Linked DNA regions of Homo sapiens: region 2 is linked to region 1. The links come from fine-mapping of genetic effects on gene expression. Tissue or cell type: blood mononuclear cells. Region 1 holds a variant in brackets; the other region holds the start of a gene. All regions are shown on one strand. Distances are between the middles of the regions.

Region 1 (2,760 bases):
AGAGTTGATTGGTCTGTCTTGACAGAGTGCTGATTGGTGTGTTTACAAACCTTTAGTTAGACACAGAGTGCTGATTGGTGCGTTTACAATCCTTTAGCCAGAGGGAAAAGTTCTCCAGGTCTCCACCCAACCCAAAAGCCCAGCTGGCTTCACCTCTCAATGGCACTGGCCGCCAGGACTTTTGGGCACCTACCCCGGGCATTCCGGCAACCCAGAGGGAGCTCGTACCTGGATCAAGCCCAGCAGGCGCCGAGTGTGGGACCCGCTCCCAGCCCGCGCCCACCTGGAACCCGTGCTGGCCCACTAGCGCCACAGCCCCAGCTGCCGCCCTCGCCTCTGCCTCCACACCTCCCTGTGAGCAGAGGGAGCCGGCTCCCGCCTCGGCCAGCCCCAGAGAGGGGCCCCCACAGCACAGCTGCGGGCTGAAGGGCTCCTGGAGTGTGGCCAGAGCAGATGCTGAGGCCAAGGAGGCACCGGGAGTGAGCAAGGGCTGCTAGCACGTTGTCACCTCTCAAAACCACTTGAGCTTTACCATCCAACATAATATCCTTTCGTTATCTCCTCACTATAGTTCTAGAACTATCATTTGCACATTTTATGTTAGATATGATGGATCAAAATTGTTTACCAGAACTTAAATGGTAAAAAGAGGCCATATTAATTACATACTGCATTGACAATATTGATGATGCTTTGTTTCAGATATACTATATATCGATGTTAACTGCTTTTGAAATATTTGAAAATTAGCCAGGTGGGATGGCTCACATCTGTAATCCCAATACTTTGGGAAGCCAAGATGGCAGGATCGCTTGAGCGCAGGAGTTGGAGACCAACCTGGGCAACACAGTGACACCCTGTCTCTATATTTAAAAAAAAAATTGAAAATTGATACTTGTTTTTGAAATACTTGGCTTTATACATGTGTGTATAATAAAAAACAAGTATCTGCTTTGTGTAGGGCAGCACCAAAGTGGTATGTGTACATTTTCCTGGAAGAACGGAACATTGGAGGAAAAAGTGTTTGGATGCCGTGGGACAAGAGACAGGATTGAATGGGAGAGTGGAAGATAGGATGTTGTCTGTTCCTCAGCCCAGGCTCAGAGACCAGTAATTCACTGGAGTTACTATTTACATGAAGGACTTTGGGAGGCTCCAGGTACAAGCACAGATGTTTCAGGACTTCAGTGAAACATATTACCCTGATTTATAGACGGAGAAGCTTCCCCCTTCCTGGGTGCCTGCAGCACAGCTTTTAACACTGGGTTGGGATGGAAGGTTCTCCAGTGCTGTGTGGGCACCATGAGGAACTGAAAGTTTGGAAACAGCACCTAGATAAAAA[G/A]GCTGAAGTAGACACCAGCTAAAGTAATACTAACGAGGCATCTCCTAACAGGGCTTCTTGGCAGTGGAAAGGAGCAGCACAGAAAAATCTGACTGGGGCTGGGCGCGGTGGCTAACGCCTGTAATCCCAGCAGTTTGGGAGTCCAATGTGGGCGGATCACCTGAGATCAGGAGTTCGAGACCAGTCTAACCAACATGGTGAAACCCCATCTCTACTAAAATACAATTAAAAAAAAAAAATCAGCCGGTCGTGGTGGCACGCACCTGTAGTCCCAGTTACTCGGGAGGCTGAGGCAGGGAAATCACTTGAACCTGGGAGGCAGAGGCTGCAGTGAGCCAAGATTGCGCCACTGCACTCCAGCCTGGCAACAGAGCAAGACTCCGTCTCAAAAAAACAAACAACAGCAACAAAAAAACAAGAATTAGCTGAGCAGGGCGGCGTGTGCCTGTGGTCCCAGCTACTAGGGGGACTGAGGCAGGAGGATCTCTTGATCCCAGGAGGTGGAGCTTGCAGTGAGCCGAGATGGACCTACTGCACTCCAGCCTGGGTGACAGAGTGAGACTCCCATCTCAAAAAAAAAAAAAAAAAATCTGATTGGCCTTGGTACTGAGCACTTGGAAGGGGTCTCTAGTTATGGCTGGGGAAGCTTTAAAAGGTGGGCTGAGATCCTGTAGTCTGTAGAGGGGGCCCACTCAGCTAGGGAAATGTGGATGCTATCAATGTTAACGTCACTGAAGACATTTCATTAACCACAGGGCTGTATTTTTTTAGGCATTTGAACCAACCTATTTAGTAACTGCCAGGGCCACATGAGGACTTTCTTAGGCCCCAACCACGTTGCCTCTGTGGGCTCCTTCCTTCTTAAGAAAAAACAATAAAAATTGTATTTCACAACTGCATTAGTGTAAATATAAATATAATCCAGGCTGGGTCCATTATAATATATTCATTTTTTTCTTCTGATTTTAACGGAAATAAAAATGAAACCACTTTCTGTAGGCCTCTGAAAGTATTGTCGGTCGCAGGCACTCTGCCTGCTGTGACTAATGGAGACATTGTCCCTAGTAACTGCTTTCCTTTCGTTTTTTTTCCAGCAGCTTCTTCCCTCTTCCCTCACTTATGGCCCCTCCTGACAATTTTGTTGATTTCTATCCAAATCAGCCCTTTCACTAAGATTGAAAAGTTGCTTGTAAATTGGCCATGTTTAATCATTTGCCAGATATTTCAATTTTTAAAAAAACATTGTTATTAAATTGTTGATTTCTCAAATGGATTTGCTATTTTGAGAAAAAATATACTAACTATATACTCAAAATTGATTTTTTATAAAAGCAGGAAGCTACAGTTTTCTATGGGTACATGGACCCTAAAAACCTTCTGTTGTTTTTCCTAAATCCCAAACCCAGATTTTTTGTGTG
Region 2 (2,500 bases), 71 kb before region 1:
CAAGCTCCTAAAATCTCAGTTTTTGTTGGGGGAGGCAGAGGGAATATTAGTTTTTCTTTTCTGTGATACCCCCTACACGAAATCTGTGTACTTTTTCTCTTGTTAATCTACCTGCAGTCAATTTATTTCATAGACTTAGTTATCCAAGCCTCAGAGAGTAGAGGGGAAGTCTTTCTTCCTCTATACCATCATCTTATGTTAATTTTTGTTGACAAATCAGGCAAGTGTCAAACATATCACAGTCTAATGGCCTCTGAGTTGGATTTTTTTTTTTTTTTTTTTTTTTTTGAGATGGAGTCTCGCTCTGTTGCCCAGGCTGGAGTGCAGTGACACGATCTCGGCTCACTGCAAGCTCCGCCTCCCGGGTTCACGCCATTCTCCTGACTCAGCCTCCCGAGTAGCTGGGACTACAGGCGCCCGCCACCACGCCTGGCTAATTTTTTGTATATTTAGTAGAGACGCGGTTTCACCATGTTAGCCAGGATGGTCTCGATCTCCTGACCTGGTGATCCGCCCGCCTCGGCCTCCCAAAGTGCTGGGATTACAGGCGTGAGCCACCGCGCCCGGCCAGAATTTTTTTTAAACAACATGGAAACAAATAAGACCTCGTTCTGTTTTCTAGGAGCTAAAAATCCAACGAAAGAAGACACAGACACAATATTCCCCTTGTTACAAAGAGAACTGTGTCAACTTTTATAACTGACACAAAGATCTGTGCTATAAGGGCGGGGAAGGTTTTTTCCTACTTTCCACAGCACTGTGGATTGTTCCACAGTTTAATTTGATCTTAATTTTTATGTGGAAATACACATGAATGTAATGAGTTCTTAAATGCTAAATTTAGGAAGCAAGGTTCGTTAGGGGAGAGAAAAAAACACCTACATGGTTATCTCTAAACTTTACATATCGAGAACCTTGGAATTTAATTTTATTGTTGTTCTGTAACATATTTTCATGTTTAAAATCAGAAAAGGCAGCATTTCTCGAGTTTCCTGCTTTCGAGGAAGGGAGGCATAAAATGTTTAAAAAGACGCCGCTCACACACCTCTTAAGAATCAGAGCACAGTGAGGAAGAGGAGCGAGGAAGCACTAGGATCGCAGCGCTACTCCCAGACCACGTCAGTGCCCAGAGGGCGCCCTCGCCTGTAGGCGGGAACCGCGAGTCCGCAGCAAGTCCCCAGCCCCGAGCTCGCGCAGGTGGGCGAGGCGGGGACGTGGTGGGCGGGGCCTAGAAAGGCGGGGCCTCTGGGGGCGGCCCCGGGGCGGGCCACGCTGGTGTGAGGGCTGCAGGCGCAGCTCCGGAGCGCCTAGAGCGCGGCGCGGGGCGGGAGCTTGGTGGAGCAGGAGCGGCTGGGCATCCTCCTGAGACTCCGGGGTCAGACGCCCACTCCAGGTAACCGGCTCTCCCTCGTGTTCCCCTGCTCGGCCGCCCGGCGGTGGGGGAAGGCTGAGAAGGATGGGTGGGAGGGAGCCGGCTCTCAGCCAGTGCCCCGTGGCCCCGGGCGGGCTGGGCTCCCCCGCGGAGGAGGAAGCAGAACCGGGGTGCGCCCGGGACCGGAATGGAGCGGCGCCTCTTCCTTCCACCTTCATTTTCCGTCCGCTCAGTGGGGCTGGGACGCCGGTGCCCCGTGTCCCCTGAAAGTCACTTTCTGGCCTCTTGCCCCTGGTCCGTGTAGCTTAGATGTCGGAGGGGTTGGCTGCGGGCGTGGATAGGCAGGGAACGAACAGACTCGCTGCCATCCCATGGGTGCCAGGGGCTTAACTTCATTTAACTTCATTGAATCCTAACGCCAGCCCGGCTAAGATGCATTTTCACCCCTACTTTACTGATAAAGAGGCCAACGCTAGGATAATAAATGACTCACCCTGGAGCAAACTATTACTAATAAGAAAAGAGACGTTAGTTTAGGGGCTCCGAAGCCTCTCCTTTCCTGCTCCCTCGCTTTCCTTCTTCTCGCGGCAGTCTAGGAAACTCGCGCGCAGGGTCTATTACGAAAACAAGTGATTCGTCTTAAAAGCATTTTACCCCCTCCTAGGTTTCTCTTTCCTCTTTTTTTTAAGTATCTCAGGCAGATTCCTCCAAGTTTTGGTTATTAGGTTTTTGAAATGGAAGAAGCCCTTGCTCACTGCTTCTTTTCTCCTGGCAGCGCTTTCTGCGCAGCACAGGCACCCTCGCCTGTCACGCCTCCCTCTCCTCTTCCCGTCTCCCAGCGTGGATGAGGGCGCCTGCAGATCCCGGCTAGGGCACGGACCGCCTAGGCCGAGGTAGGTTCTGTAGGCACCTGGCATGCTGTAGATGCATATAAACGTTGCCCTGTACACCCTTTGCCTTGTTATTTCTTTCTGCAGAAAAGAGAGTCGGTTTTTTACACATAATGGGGCAAGAGGCCAATTGGGAAGATATATGGTGTTCAAAGAAAGCCGTGGTGCCTTGAGATGAGAATGCGGCCACAGCTTTTTGTGGGCTGAATTTGATGGGTGGGAGGTGAGAGACGTGGTC

The links. PIP is the estimated chance that this variant, and not a neighbour inherited with it, causes the effect.
Region 2: GCNT1 starts here. The variant in region 1 is fine-mapped to the expression of GCNT1 in blood mononuclear cells (TOPMed, PIP 0.97).

The regions. Positions count from the first base shown.
Region 1 is chr9:76,528,560-76,531,319 of GRCh38, forward strand. No RefSeq gene overlaps it. Among named protein-coding and RNA genes, the nearest start is that of GCNT1, 71 kb to the left of the region's middle. The variant G/A (reference allele first, on the strand shown) is at 1,343.
Region 2 is chr9:76,457,913-76,460,412 of GRCh38, forward strand. GCNT1 (glucosaminyl (N-acetyl) transferase 1) reads left to right here and starts at 1,270. Exons shown (of 4, transcript NM_001490.5): 1 at 1,270-1,393; 2 at 2,148-2,265. RefSeq lists a silencer at 1,055-1,594 and an enhancer at 2,205-2,314.